Linked DNA regions of Homo sapiens: region 2 is linked to region 1. A link means that fine-mapping ties the variant in region 1 to the expression of a gene that starts in the linked region. Tissue or cell type: whole blood. Region 1 holds a variant in brackets; the other region holds the start of a gene. All regions are shown on one strand. Distances are from middle to middle.

The links. PIP is the estimated chance that this variant, and not a neighbour inherited with it, causes the effect.
Region 2: VCL starts here. The variant in region 1 is fine-mapped to the expression of VCL in whole blood (INTERVAL, PIP above 0.99).

Annotation. Positions count from the first base shown.
Region 1 is chr10:74,137,132-74,145,397 of GRCh38, reverse strand. AP3M1 (adaptor related protein complex 3 subunit mu 1) reads left to right here. Exons shown (of 9, transcript NM_012095.6): 2 at 7,016-7,291. The coding sequence starts at 7,019. Among named protein-coding and RNA genes, the nearest start is that of AP3M1, 9.6 kb to the left of the region's middle. The variant C/G (reference allele first, on the strand shown) is at 3,227.
Region 2 is chr10:73,994,985-74,002,984 of GRCh38, reverse strand. It overlaps VCL (vinculin), which reads right to left and starts at 4,869. Exons shown (of 22, transcript NM_014000.3): 1 at 4,610-4,869. The coding sequence starts at 4,777. RefSeq lists enhancers at 3,917-4,568, 4,641-4,840 and silencers at 4,521-4,570, 4,901-5,260.

The DNA of each region.
Region 1 (8,266 bases):
TTACAAGTGTTATGCTTTCATCTCAGCACTAAGGATAACAACAATAAATCTAGGAGGCTGGTTTAACTTTCTGTATTCTGAGACCTGAACTACTGCCAATAAAAACAACTTCGGTGGAAACTTTCCTGGAAAGAATTTTTCACCAGCTTAAGAGGATGAGTAGAGATCTGGCCCTAAAATAAAGTAACTACAAAATCACTTACTTTCAAAACAAGCAACTCTTTCAGAGTGTATTGTGGCAAAGGAGCACTATAAATCCTTGTGAACTATATTTTCGATAGGATGAATGATTTTAGATAACCTGTGTCGGTGCTTTTAAATATAACTTCCACTCTAAATAATTTATTAAACTTCCTCAGCATAACAACTAGAATGTCTTTTGCCTCCTAACTAAACAAGAAATGTCTTTTACCTCCTCCTCTTAAATCATAAGCTAGGCTGGGTGCAGTGGCTCATGCCTGTAATCTCAGCACTTTGGGAGGCTGAGGCGGGCGGATCACGAGGTCAGGAGTTCGAGACCAGCCTGGCCAACATGGTGAAACCCCATCTCTACTAAAAATACAAAAAATTAGCTGGGCATGGTGGCGCATGCCTGTAATCCTAGCTACTCGGGAGGCTGAGGCAGGAGAATCGCTTGAACCCAGCAGGCGGAGGTTGTGGTAAGAGGAAATCGTGCCATTGCACTCCAGCCTGGGCAATAGAGCAAGACTCCGTCTCAAAAAAAAAAAAAAATCATAAGCTAAAGCAGCACATTCATGCACTGTTCAATATATTAACTACTAACCATATATGGTTATTTAAATTTAAATTAATTAAAATTAAAACTTCAGGCTAGGCTTGGTGGCTCACACCTGTAATCCCAGAACTTTGGGAGATCAAGGTGGGAAGATCACTTGAGCCCAGGAGTCCAGGATCAGCCTGGGCAATATAGGCAGACTTTGTCTCTACAAAACAAAAATTTGAAACTCAGCTGTGTGTGGTGATGCACGCCTGTAAGCCCAGCTACTCAGGAGACTGAAGTGGGAGGATCGCTTGGGCTCTGGAGGTGGGCGTTGGAGTGAGCCAAGATGACGCAGCTGCACTCCAGCCTGGGCAACAGAGCGAGACCCTATCTCAAAAAAAAAATAAAAATAAAAAAGCCGGGCATGGTGGCTCACGCCTGTAATCCCAGCACTTTGGGAGGCCGAGGCGGGTGGATCATGAGGTCCGGAGATCGAGACCATCCTGGCTAACATGGTGAAACCCCATCTCTACTAAAAATACAAAAAATTAGCCAGGCGTGGTGGCGGGCTCCTGTAGTCCCAGCTACTCGGGAGGCTGAGGCAGGAGAATGGTGTGAACCTGGGAGGCGGAGCTTGCAGTGAGCAGAGATCACGCCATTGCGCTCCTGTCTGGGAGACAGAGCAAGACTCCGTCTCAAAAAAAAATTAATTAAAATTTCAAAAAAATTAAAACTTCAGTATTGGGTACATTAGCCACATTTCAAGTGCTCAATAGCCATGGGTGTAGTGGCTACCATATTAGCACAGATAAAGGACATTTCCATCATTGCAGAAAGCCCTGTTGGACAGTGCTGTATTAGAACGTGTTCCTAATAATTAGTCTCTACAAGGCAGATAAGAGCAGGAGCTCAGAATTCAGCTGGATTTAGGTTTGAATCCTAGCTTACTGCGTGATCTTAGGTAATTGACCTAACTTTTCTGAGATGACATTGTCTTATCTGTAAAATGGGGATAATAGTAGTATTTATGGTGTAGCATTGTGAAAATAAGATGAGATAAAGTGTCTAGCATAGTGTCTGGCCCATAATAAGTACTCAATACATTTTAGATAGTATTAATTCATTTATTATTCATTATCTTTAATGAATAAAACACTTTGAATGGGGACTGAGTACAGTAGCTTCACTTTGGGAGGCGAAGGCAGGCGGATCACTTGAGGCCAACATGGTGAAACCCCATTTCTACTAAAAACAGAAAAACTAGCTGGGCATGGTGGTGCACACCTGTAATCCCAGCTACTGAGGAGGCTGAGGCACGAGAATTGCTTGCCCATGGGAGACGGAGGTTGCAGTCAGCAGAGATCACACCACTGCACTCCAGCCTGGGTGACAGTGGGAGACTCTGCTCAAACAAACAAACAAGCTTTGTTCCCAAGTAGCTGGGATTACAGGCGCACGCCACCATGCCCGGCTAATTTTTGTATTTTTAGTAGAGACAGGGTTTTGCCATGCTGGCCAGGATGGCCTTGAACTCCTGACCTCAGGTAATCCACCAGTCTTGGCCTCCCAAAGTGCTGGGATTACAGGCGTGAGCCACTGTGCCTGGCCAAAAATAACCACATTGAATGGGGCCAAAAGATTAATTTTTGCAAAGAATGCTGTGTTCCATATGTGACTCACCTGAAGTGCCCAAATCTGAGTCTGCTTGTGGATTACAGTGCTCCACTTGAAGTCATACATTATATATTTCAGATGCTGATTTTCTTCCAAGAAAAAGGTGTAATAATAAAAATTTAGTTGCAGATCTTATGGTTGGATATTCCTGTTTCATTTAAAAAATGAAAATGAAAAGTTTATCAGCTAAAGATTATAGTTAAAATCAGCAGGTTCTATATAGCAAGTCTAAGTATTCTAATGGCACTTATATTAATACCCAGACAGAAATATAAGACACAAAGCAAGCCTACTAAGCAAAGCATCTGACTAGATAAAGTAGAAAAATTTGGCAGGTTCCAACCCTGAGGTGTCAGAGTTTATTGCTAATAACTCAAGTTGATTTCTTGGCTAAACAGAGGGCTTTAAACAAAGAAATTTTTTGGTTCTAATTAAACAGGAACCCTAAACTGTTAACAGTATTCATACTTTATTAATACAATAATTACTAAAACATATCTTAGTAACTAGTATTATTGATAACTACTGAACATGTGTCGAATGGGAAGAGGAGATCATCACCACATATTCTTTAAATGTCAGCCGCTTTCATAAAAGAAAGGGTTGATGTTGTTTTCTGTCAACAGAATCAAATGAATCAATTCTGGAAAGTCTTCCTTTCCTCTTTGGAATTTATCTTCATTCATAGAAACTGTATTCATAGGTCTTAAATTCTTTCTTCTTAGACTATAGTACTATTACTTGGAATGATTGAGCCACTAGACTAAACACCTGATACTGGTGCTTATACACGTAAAAGATAGGAACAAGGTAAGATAATTAGACATTTTT[C/G]CATTGTCCCCCATATTGCAGGGACAATAAACTTCTTATAGGAAGCATAACTAACACTCAGAAAGTATGCAAATCACAATGTAAAGCCTAATGAGTTATCATAGAAGGAACACAGCTTGTAAACATCATGCAGGTCAAGAAATAAAACATTGGCCAGGTGCGGTGTCTCACTCCTGTAATCCTAGCACTTTGGGAGGCTGAGGCAGGCGGATCACGAGGTCAGGAGTTCAAGACCAGCCTGGCCAACATAGTGAAACCTCGTCTCTATTAAAAATACAAAAAAAAAAAAAAACTAGCCAGGTGTGGCGGTGTGTGCCTGTAATCCCAGCTACTAGGGAGGCTGAGGCAGGAGAATCTCGTGAACTTGGGAGGCAGAGGTTTCAGTGAGCCGAGATAACACCATTGCACTCCAGCCTGGGCGACAGTGTAAGACTCCATCTCAAAAAAAAAAAAAAAAGGAAAATAAAAAAGAAATAAAACATTACCAGCACTCTAGGAGATCATCCCCATGGCCCTCCACTCTCCATAAAGGAAACCATTTGATTTAACGTAGATTAGTTTTGCCTGTTCTACAACTTCATATAAATGGAATCATACTGTGTATATTCTTTTGCATCTGGCTTCATTTATTCAACATCGTATTTGTAAGATTCGTTTGTATGTATATATTCTTTGAGTAAATGTCTTTTCAAATCCTTTGCCCATTTTTTAATTGGCTTGTTTATTTATTTATTTTTTATGTTTTAGAGGCAAGGTCTCCCTCTGTCACCCAGGCTAGGGTGCAGTGGTGGGATCATAGTTGACTGCAGCCTCAAACTCCTGGACTCAGGCAATCCTCCCACCTCAGCCTCCCAAGTAGCAGGGACTACAGGTATGAGCCACTATGCCTGGCTAGTTTTTAAATTTTTTTATAGAGACGGGGTCTCAAACTCCTGGGCTCAAGCAATCCTCCCTCCTCAGCCTCCCAGAGTGCTAGGATTACAGTTGTGAGTCACCACACCTGGCCCTTCTTATTATTGAGTAAAAGTTCTTTATATTTTCCGGATAGGGGTCCCTTTAAGATATATGGTTTCAAATATTTACTATCATTTTGTGAATTTTTGCTTTCTTGATAATGTCCTTTGAAGCACTAAGTTTTAAATTTGATGGACTCTGGGTTATCTATTTTTTATTTTTCTTGTCTGTACTTTTGGTATCGTATCTTAAAAAACATTGTCTAATCCAGAGTCAAAATCTATGCATATTTTTTCTAAGAGTTTTATCATTTTGGCTTTTCCAATTAGGTCTTTGATACATTTTGTGTTGCTTTTTGTATCCAATTTCATTCTTTTGTATGTGGAAATCCAGTTGTTCCAGTACCATTTGTTGAAAAGGTTGTTCTCTCTCCAACTGGTCACCCAGGTCTTGGCACCCTTGTTGAAAATCAGTTGACCATAAATGTAAGGGTTAATGTTCTATTGATCTGTAGGTCTGTCCTTGTGCCAATACCACATAGTAGTTTTGTAGTAAGTTTTGAAATCAGGAAGCACGAGTTATCCATCTTCGTTGTTCCTTTTTTTTTTTAATTCAAATATATATATTTTTTCAATCTTTTTAATTCTACATATTTTTGTAAGCATCCCCCCAATTCTTGTTTCATAGTAAATCAGACTGTAGATGAAGCATTTCAGACCTTTTGTCAATCATGTCAAGTGTGAGGGGAAGTCTTTTGTAAGTCAGCCAAGTATTTCAAAATGAAAAGCTTTTCCAAAAGTAAAGGCAGAAGACCCCGCTTTGAAGGCGCTGGTCGGCACAGAAGGGCTTGCAAAGGTATGTAGGGAAGTCCACCGGTTACAGGTGTAAGGTGAGTTTAACCTACGGCGACCAGCTGGCCAGGAGCGCCCCAAGGCAGACGAGGACGTGGGGCTTGGGCGCACGGCCGCCTGCAGCCATCTCGCCCCAGATCCTGGCTCAGGAAACGCAGGCTCGGGCTGGGGTGGATGTGTGCGCCCCAGGGCCCTGGCACCCGGGGGACCGAGGGCTCCTCCCAGGTCCTTGGAACAGCAGAGTGGCTCCCAGGAAGGATGCTCAGCTGCAGGTGGGGGTCCCTGCTCCCAAGCACCCTGGCCAGGGAGGAATGGCGCACCCCACCCCGTTCGCCCCTGTTGTTCCTTTTCAAGATTGTTTTGGCTGTTGATCTTTTTCAATTCCTTATGAATTTAGGATTAGCCTGTCAAATTCCACGAAAAGGCAGCTGGGATTTTTTTTTTTTTTTTTTTGAGATGGAGTCTCAATCTGTCACCCAGGCTGGAGTACAGTGGTGCAATCTTGAGTCTCGGCTCACTGCAACCTCCGCCTCCCGGGTTCAAGCGATTCTTCTGCCTCAGCCTCCTGAGTAGCTGGGACTACAGGTGCGTGCCACCACGCCTGGCTAATTTTAGTAGGGACGGGGTTTCACCGTCTTAGCCAGGATGGTCTCGATCTCCTGACCTCGTGATCCACCCACCTCGGCCTCCCAAAGTGTTGGGATTACAGGCGTGAGCCACCGCGCCTGGCCTTTTTTTTTTTTTTTTAGTAGAGACAGAGTTTCTGCACGTTGGCCAGGCTGGTCTTGAACTCCCGACCTCAGGTGATCCACCTGCCTCGGCCTCCCCAAGTGCTGGGATTATAGGCATGAGCCACCACGCCCGGCCTGAAATTGTTTTATTTCATTTTCAGTTTTGTTTTGTTTTTTTTTTTTTAATAGAGATGAGGTCTCACTATGTTGCATAGGCTGGTCTTAAACTCCTGAGCTCAAGCAATCCTCCTTCCTCAGCCTCCCACAGTGCTGGGTTTATAGGCATGAGTTACAATGCCTAGCCCATTTTTAGTATTTTATAGCTATAGTGGATAGAAATATAATTGATTTTTATATTGACTTGTGTCCTGCAAGCTTGCTGAACTAAATTTATTAGCTCTAATAGGTTTTTTTTTGTGTGTGTGTGGATTCCTTAGGATTTTCTATATATAAGATTGTATCTTCTACAGATACAGTTTTACTTCTTCCTTTCCAATTTGGAAGCCTTTTGTTTTATTTTCTTGCTTAATTGCCCTGGTTCAAACCTCTAGTACCATGTTGAATAGAAATGATGGGACTGGGCATCCTTGTTAGGTTTTGTTATTAAGGAGAAAGTGTTCGGTCTTTCACCTTTAAATATAATATTAGCTGTGGGGTTTTCATCAGGTTAAGGAAATTTTTTTTTTTTTTTTTTTTTTTTTTAGATAGTGTCTCACTTGGTCACCCAGGCTGGAGTGCAGTGGCGCAATCTTAGCTCTCTACAGCGTCGATCTTCCTCCTGGGCTCAAGCAATTCTCCTGCTTCATCCTCCTGAGTACCTAGGACTACAGGCAAGTGCCACCATGCTTGGCTAATTTTTGTATTTTTTGTAAAGATGATGTTTTGCCCTGTTGCCCAGGCTGGTCTCAAACTCCTGAGCTCAAGCAATCCGCCCACCTCAGCCTCCCAAAGTGCTGAGATTACAGGCATGTGCCACTGAGCCTGGCTGAGGAAGTTTCTTTTTGTTCTTAAATGGCTTTCTTTTTTTTTTTTTTTTTTCGTAAAAGGATGTTGGATTTTGTCAAATGCAATTTCTGCACCTTTTGAAATGATTGTTTTAGTTCTTATTGTATATCATGTTGATTGATTTTTGTATGTTGAACCAGCCTTGCATTCTTAGAATAAATCCCACTTGGTCAAGGTGTATAATCTTTTTGTGTATGTTAAATGATATTTAATGTATAATAAATTTAAACCTTTCTTTGCCCCAACAGAAAATGATCCACAGTCTATTTCTCATAAACTGTTCCGGTGACATATTTCTAGAGAAGCACTGGAAGAGCGTTGTGAGCCAGTCTGTCTGTGATTATTTCTTTGAAGCTCAAGAGAAAGCTGCTGATGTTGAAAATGTACCACCTGTCATTTCAACACCTCACCACTACCTCATCAGTATCTACCGGGATAAGCTCTTCTTTGTATCTGTCATACAGACCGAAGTGCCACCTCTCTTTGTAATTGAGTTCCTACATCGAGTTGCTGACACTTTTCAGGTTGGTTATCTATCATACCTTTCTAAGTTAAATGACCCAAGTTAGCTGAAGGTGAGACATGATTATATTATTTAATTACCCAGGTTTTGATGTTTACTGTCTGTCTCTCTCTGTTTAAGCGTAAATTCATAAGCCCTTTTCTGTGTGGTATACAGTTACACACATGGCTGCTCTATTCACTATTTTTTATATGTATTACAGATTACAGTTGGCTCTCCATATACATGGGTTCTGCATCCATAAAGTCACCCAACCTTACATGGCAAATATTTGAACAAAAAAATCGAACTGAACATGTACAAACTTCTTCTCATTATTACTTGAACAATACAGTATAACAAATAGTTACATAGCATTTACACTGTGTTAGATATTACAAGTAATCTAGAGGTGATTTAAAGTATATAGGAGGATGTGTATAAGTTATGTGCAAATACTATGCCATTTTATGTCAGCGACTTGAGAATTGTGAACTTTGGTATCTACAGGGGATCCTGGAACTAATTCCCACAAATACCAAGGGATGACTGTATATCATCAGGAAACAATAATGCCCTCCGCATACAGTTCTCTCAATGGTCTCAAGATTTTCATTGGTTATGAACTCTTCTATATTTACATTTTATTATTTTGTCTTGCGGAATATACCAAATAATTTAAGCTTATCTATATGTATTTTGGGATAATCAGGGTGAATGAAGTTTATAGCTCAAATTCCAATTTAATGTTTCAATACTTTCTGGTATAATATGTAATAGGAATTAAATTCAACCTAGAAATATCAAGAAAATATTGAGGAATAATATTAGGACTATAGAGGGGTTTTTTTTGTTTGCTTGTTTTGTTTTGTTTTGTTTTGTTTTGTTTGAGACGGAGTCTCACTCTGTTCCCTAGGCTGGAGTGCAGTAGCATGATCTTGGCTCACCGCAACCTCCGCCTCCCGGGTTCAAGCAATCCTCCCGCCTCAGCCTCCCA
Region 2 (8,000 bases), 140 kb after region 1:
AGTGACCAGACTACTTTGCTTAGCAAATATACATGAAATTACAAATCCTAATGAGTTCTGCCCCCATAAAAGTAAGTAATGTCTTTCTTTTTTTTTTTTTTTTTGAGACAGAGTCTTCCTTTGTCACCAGGCTGGAATGCAGTGGCAAGATCTCAGCTCAGTGCAACCTCCACCTCCCGGATTCAAGCGATTCTCCCGCCTCAGCCTCCCGAGTAGCTGGGACTACAGGCGCGTGCCACCATGCCCAGTTAATTTTTGTATTTTTAGTAGAGACGGGGTTTCACCCTGTTGGCCAGGATGGTCTCCATCTCTTGACCTCGTGATCAGCCCGCCTCGGCCTCCCAAAGTGCTGGGATTACAGGCATGAGCCACCATACTTGGCCAAGTAATACCTTTCTTACCACATCTCTAAATATTCAAATCCTATCTGTCTTTAAGACCCAACTCAATGTTATATCCTCTGTGAAGCCTTCCCTGATTCTCCAATCAAAAGTAATCTCGTCTTCCTCTGACTTTCCATCATACTCTGTTTCCTCAGTGCCACTTAAGATTTCCAATTCAGCCGGGCGTGGTGGCTCACGCCTGTAATCCCAGCACTTTGGGAGGCCGAGGCGGGCGGATAACCTGAGGTCAGGAGTTCAAGACCAGCCTAACCAACATGGAGAAACCCCGTCTCTACTAAAAATCCAAAATTAGCCGGGCGTGGTGGCACATGCCTGTAATCCCAGCTACTAGGGAGGCTGAGGCAGGAGAATCACTTGAACCTGGGAGACAGAGGTTGCGGTGAGCCAAGATCATGCCACTGCACTCCAACCTGGGCAATAAGAGCGTAACTCCATCTCAGAAAAAAAAGACTTCCAATTCAGTATCATACTGATTGTGACAGGCATCACACTTATTGCTTTGACATTGGAAGGGGTCTCAATAAACACCTGCTTGATAAGTGAATGACTATTACAACAATTGAAAATTTCATCTTCATCTAGTAAATTTTAATTATGGAAATATCCAAAAGTCATTTAGGCTCAAGAACAGTAAATGAAGTAGTTGAGCTCAAGAATGCCTACTTCAGTCAAAATGTACACTTTCTTGACCAAAATAAGACTAATTTGGCATACGTATGTAAATAATCTGAAAGAAATTCCCAAAGAAAAGCACTAGAATAAGGATATAACCTCCCAAAGTAACTCCCAAGAAATACTCACCCAGATTACATAAATTCCAGAAGATTTGTTCTAAAATCAGTTTCATTATTTTACCGTAATACTATGTTTCTTTTCTAGCAAATTCAGAGTTCAATTATCCAGTTCTATTATTTCTTCTTCTAATATATTTCTGATTAATTCCTTCTCCATTTTCCCTGCCACTCGCAAGTCCAGGCCTTCATTTTCTTCATAACCAACCAATTTTAAAAGCTTCCCAATTTGTCTCCCTTCCCATAGTTCCTTCAACAATATTTATTGAGTGATCCTATGTGCCAATTTTGAGGGCAGGAACTGAGGACCATATAAAGAAATATCAGACCAGGCACAGTAGCTCACAACTGTAATCCAGCACTTTGAGAGGCCAAGGCGGGAGGATTGCTTGAGCCCAGGGATTCGAGACCAGCCTGGGCAACATAACAAGACCCTGTCTCTATTTAAAACCAAAATAAAATTTTTTAAAAAGAGAGGAATATCAGACAAGGCTTGACCTCCAGGAACAATCTTGAAGCATGTACAGAATCCACATATTTAACGGTCACAGTTGGCACCAAGAATGTGAAGCAATGGGTAGGTCCTCTGGCCTCCCCAAAACACACTATACTATTCTCACACGCCATTCTCACGCAGTCTTTCTCACACACTATTCTCATCCTCCTTCCCCTCCTGCTCTCTTTGTTCATCCTTTTGGATAAGGCCTATGTTACACTGCCCATATGTCACGCACTAACTTCATCTCCAATTTCTCTCCAACTTGTCTCCTGAGCTGCAATCAAGATAATCTACTTGCTGTAACCTGGAAGTGACTTACTCACAAGTACCTTTGTTCATGATTAACTATTTATCAGCACAATCCTCCCTACTTTGTCTCTGCTAACCCATAGCTACCACCAATCTCAAGTCCCCTCTTTTGTATGTGTTGGAAAGTATATAACTTAACTACATATCATTGTTTTCATCTTATAACCTTATTTCTTTTGTATTTGTCTCACAGTGTGTATTACAGTGTTTCCTAACTAAGGCCGTATATCACAATCACCTATGGAGCTTCCTAAAAAATACGAAGGCCTGGCCGGGCACAGTGGCACATGCCTGTAATCTCAGCACTTTGGGAGGCCGAGGCGGGCAAATCACAAGGTCAAGAGATGGAGATCATCCTGGCCAACATGGTGAAACCCCGCCTCTACTAAAAATACAAAAATTAGCTGGCCACGGTGGTGCGAACCTGTAGTCCCAGCTACTCGGGAGGCTAAGGCAGGAGAATCACTTGAACCTGGGAGGAGGACGTTGCAGTGGGCCCAGATCGTGTCACTGCACTCCAGCCTCGTGACAGAGGAAGACTCCATCTCAAAAACAAACAAACAAACAAACAAACAAAGGCCTTCAGCTACTTGGGAGGCTGAGGTGGGAGGATTTTTCTCAGTCCAGGAGATGGAGGCTGCAGTGAGCTATGATCACGCCATTGCACTCCAGCGCCTGCGTGACAGAGCGAGACCCTGTCTCAAAAAAAAAAAAAAAAAAAAGCAAAATACAAAGGCCTTGACCCGTGGGAGCTGGACATCTTAATTTCTAAAAAGCCTCACTGATGATTTTCATGAACACTCTTAAGCTGAGAAGCACTGATTTATTGCAGTGTTTTCCATATAGCAGACATTCAATGCTTATTAATTCATGGCATGGAAGCCCATAAATAACTTTTCTCTAAATAGCCTAACCAGATATCAACCCCTAGACTACACTAGCTCTGTTCCAAGTGCAACATGTGGTTTTAAGATTTCATTTCCTGAAGTACTACATGGAGAGACACTATTACCTTGTCTCTTTACATTGTTTCCTATTTGTTGAAAAATGGAGGCCTGGAATGCAGCCATGTTAGACAACACTACATAAGAATGTACTCTGGAGTGTTCTGTTCAAATTAGTTATAAAAAGAAGAACAATGTACAAGTAGACATTGTGAATGAATACAGCATTCTTACTGAATGAATAGATTCTTACTAAAGCTATAGAGAAGAAAGATCAGGAATTTGGTCGGTGGTGTCACCCTGTCTTCCTAGCTACCAGTCTCCTAAATTGCTTGAGACAGTCCAGGGACCCCTGAAGACTGAGGAAGACTTTCAGCTGCTAAAGAGCCTCTAAGTGCACTAAAGTGCTCAAATCAGAAAAGTAACCCAAGCCCCACCCAGACAGACCCACAGTTGCCGCCCAACTGCCCTGACACACACTATTTACACAGCTCAGTGGGGGAGCAGTATGAACTTTTTCCAAAATTGTTCCTCACAAGCAGGACCAGTCTGAGTCACCCACCCAGGGTGGGAAAGAAAAGTGTGACATTAGCCAGGGGAGTCTTGGGAGACTGGTCTCAGCACCTCTTTTTTCCCATTTCAGACGTGGGCTCCACCTCCTCCAGGAATCACCTCGGTTATGAGTCACAGCTGTGGGTTACAGGGGTCTGCAGAGCCACCAGGAAAGTTGTGGATGGGGAGCGGATGCCCCAGCCTTCTCTCCGGCAGGGGCGGCAGATCCCAGATTCCACAGGCCTCTCCCAACAGCTCCATCTTGCTTCCTGCCAGGAGGAGGGGCCAAGGAGGGCCCCCGAGTCTAGAAAGGCCCCAGTGGGAGGAGGCCGTTTGACAGCAGGTAACGCCAGGTGAAAATGTCCACAGGAGGGAATGAAAGGAAGGGCAGCAGGGCTGAGCGGAAGGAAAAACCGGGCTTGTGGTCACGAATGACTGCATAAAGGTGTGAGAGTGCCAGAGGAGTGAGCATAAGTAAAATGCCCAGGAGGGAGGAGGAGGCGACAGAGAGTGAGGCAAGTGAATAAAAGGGCGGAATACAGGGAGCTCTGGGGAGCGGGGGTGGGCGAGGCGGGTCTCAGGGTGAGGGGCAGAAGTATTAGAAAGGAGGACAACGTGGCTCAAATAAGGATCCCTAGAAGAGAAGGCAAGGGATCCGTGGGAAGGCCCGCTCTCCCTCCCCCGCACAGCCAGATCGAGGAGGCCTAAAAGGCGCTGAGAGCGAGGAAGTCAACGTGGGGGCGAAGCCTGCGCGGGGCAGGGACCCTCGGACATCCCAGCAACTCTCATTTATTGGGTGTCTGCTGTGGGCCACACGCCGCGCGAGGCACTCCACGAATAATACCTCGCCATATCTTCACGACAAGCCCGCAAGGCAGCCTTTTTCATGACTGCTCCCATTTTATAGATGAGGACACTGAGGCCCGGAGAGGCTCAGGACTCGCTCAAGGTCACAGGGCGGAGAAGAGGCCATTCGAACCCTCGGCGCCTGGCTCCGGAACCCACGCGGAAAGCCACGGCCAGCGAGCCGGCCACAGGCAGCCGCGACGCGGGCCGGGGCCCCGGGGATACCTCCCGCGCCCGCTCCCGCGCCAGGCCCTGCGCGCTCACCCGGACGAGGTTGCTGACGGCCGCCTGCACGGCGGCCACGGGCGCGGTGAGGTCAGGAATGGCTTTGCCGTCCACCTCGCCCTCCTCGTGCATTATCACCAGGTGGGAGATCTGCTGTGCCACCGGCTCCAGGATGCTCTCGATCGTGCGCGTATGAAACACTGGCATCGCGGCGGCGAGCGGGGCGGCGAACCGCGGGCGACAGAGAAGTAGGATCCACGGGGCCGGGAACCGGCGAAGAGACAGACTGTGCAGCGACTACGGAGTCGGGGCTTCCCTCGGCGTAACCAGCCTCACGGGCTCCCCGCCCCCTCTCGTCGCCGCGCCCAATGGCAGCGCAGCTCAGACCTGGGCCGCCACTCCTACTGGTCCCTTTTCGAGATGCTCCGCCCCAGCCACCGCGCCGCCAAACCCCGCCCCTCCCCCATTCCTAAGGGAGGGGCCTGGGATTGGGGCTGAGCCGCCGGGATTGCTACCGGATTCCCGAGCCCTAACGCCGGGCGCTCCTTATAAGGGCATGGTGGGAGCGGAGCGGGCCGCTGGAGCCGGCTGGTCCCGCCCCCGGGCCGCCTCCCGCCTCGGATCTGGGGGGCTCCGCCCCTCTGCAGAATCACCTCAGCGGGGCGGGGTCTCCTCACCTCAAGCGGCGCTAGAGTTTGATGAGACCAAGGGGTCTCCCACGTCCCCTCCTCAACTTTTCCCTTCACACGAAACCCTCAAAATACTCCTTCCATTCCCTCCCAGCAATGCATGGGAAGGTTTTTAGTAAAAGATTCAAACAGCAGAGGTGCACTGAGAAACAGCAGCGTCCCATTCACGTAAACGCAGACTCCGCCCCCTGCCCTCCTCAAAGACATTCTGTTTAACAGCTGGGTGTGTAGCCTTCTAGACTTGTCTATAGATTCACTTCTACATATATATTTTCTAACTAAATGAGATTAATAAACATTTTCCTGGAACTAGGTATGATTGCCCTTGATTAAAATGCCCTTATCTTTCACTGCTGGTAGAGGTCTACCTCATTCTTCTTAATGACTGCATGATATTCCATTGCATGAAATAAAACTATTTACAGAACCAATTTCCTACTCATGGACTTGGGTTGGGTCCTGGTTTTCACTATTAAAAAACAATTCTGCATGAATTGTACTTACCCCTGTGCTGTGCATCTGTGTATTTATCTAGCGCAAATGCCTACCAGGAAAGAGAAAAACGCAAAAGTATATGCATTTTATATTTTGATAGGTAAGACCAAATTATCCAGTTCCCTCACGCTTTGTATAAGACATCTTCCAGGCCGGGCGCGATGGCTCACGCCTGTAATCCCAGCACTTTGGGAGGCTGAGGCGGGCGGATCACGAGGTCAGGAGATCTAGGCCATCCTGTCTAACACGGTGAAACCCCGTATCTACTAAAAATACAAAAAAAATAGCCAGGCGTGGTGGCGGGCGCCTGTAGTCCCAGTTACTCATGAGGCTGAGGCAGGACAATGGCGTGAACCCGGGAGGCGGAGCTTGCAGTGAGCGGAGATCGCGCCACTACACTCCATCCTGGGCGACAGAGCAAGACTCTGTCTCAAAAAAAAAAAAAAAAAAAAAAAGACATCTTCCAAACGTCTTACTTACTTCAAATTCGCTTTTGCCCAAGCTTTCCCATTCTGAGGTAAACACTTTCAGTAATGCCTCCAAGCAAAAGATTCTCACATCAAATGAAAATTTTTGTCTAGTCCTACCACAACCACCACAGCTGTTTTCTCTGCCCATTACTTTGTGTTAATAGTATAAATATTTGGGTGATGGGGCCAGGCACGGTGGCTCACGCCTGTAATCCCAGCATTTTGGGAGGCTGAGGCAGGCAGATCACCTGAGGTCAGGGGTTCAAGACCAGCCTGGCCAACCTGGTGAAACCCCGTCTCAACTAAAAATACAAAAATTAGCCAGGTGTGGTGGCAGGTGCCTGTAATCCCAGCTAATCGGGAGGCTGAGACAGGAGACTTGCTTGAACCTGGGAGGTGGAGGTTGCAGTGAGCTGATACCGTGCCATTGCACTCTAGCCTGAGCAACAGAGTGAGACTCCCTGTCCAAAAAAAAAAAAGTTGAGTGATGGAACGATATGATTTTTTTATTTTAAAAATTATTTTATTTTATTTATTTTTATTTATGTTTTTATTTTTTGAGATAGGGTCTCACTCCGATTGTCCAGGCTGGAGTGCAGTGGTGTGATTTCGGCTCACTGCAGCCTTGACCTCCCCAGGCTCAGGTGATTCTCCCACCTCAGCATCCCAAGTAGCTGGGACCACAGGTGCATGCCACCACGCCCGGCTAATTTTTGTATTTTTGATAGAGACAAGGTTTCGCCATGTTGTCCAGGCTGATCTCAAACTCCTGGACTCAAGAAATCCACCTGCCTTGGCCTCCCAAAGTATAAATGGCCTCCCAAAGTATATATAGCCTCCCAAAAAGTGTATGATTTTGTTAAATCCTCACCCTGTCCCCACTTTGCTGATTGTATATTTATGTGTAGTTTAACTTGTTCTTCTGAACTATATATTTCCTACAGATTGGCAGGAAGACTCAGAGGCTTGATCATGTAATCATCTTTAATGCCTGACTGGCCATATTAACCTCCCAAAAAGAATATCACATTGCACATCCAGCCCATGTGCTCCCCAACATCCATAATCATACCCATTTCCGTCCCCCTGATTTCCACATTCACTGGCTCCCTCTAAAATCTTTCTTGGTGCCTGTTAGCATGTGTTAACACCAATGCCCTCCACAATCTGGGTCCAGACCAACCTTACTGCCTTCAGCTTCCCCACCTTAGACCCACAGACAGGCAGGTTAAACAGTGCAAACAGCATAAATTCAGAGCCATCCAGAGCTCAAGCCAGAACCCCAGCTTCACAACTTGATGGAGATATAACTCCGGCAAGTGGGATAATAGCACCGTCACAGAGCTGATGTAAGGGAATTTGTAAAGCACCTAGGAGACCTTCAGTAAAAGAAACCATTATCATTATTAGAGCAGTCACAAACTGACATATTCACAGTCTCCAGAAATTCCTGGTAGAGTTTCACTTTTGAGCTTTTCTCCACATTTCTTTCCCACCTAGAAAGCTATCAGTGCTTGTCTAACTCTTACCTATTGTGGTAGACAGAATTCTAAGATGTCCCCCGGGATTTCTCACTCCGAATATACACACTCTCCATAATCCCCAGGCTGTGACTATAAGGGATTTTACTTTCATAATCAGATTACATTATATAGCACAGTTGGTCTTAAAACAGGGAGATTATCCAAGTGGGCTTGACCTAATCACATGAGCTCTTTTAAAGCAGAGAGTTTTCTCTGGCCAGTTACAACAAATGAACTCAAAAGCACAAGAGGA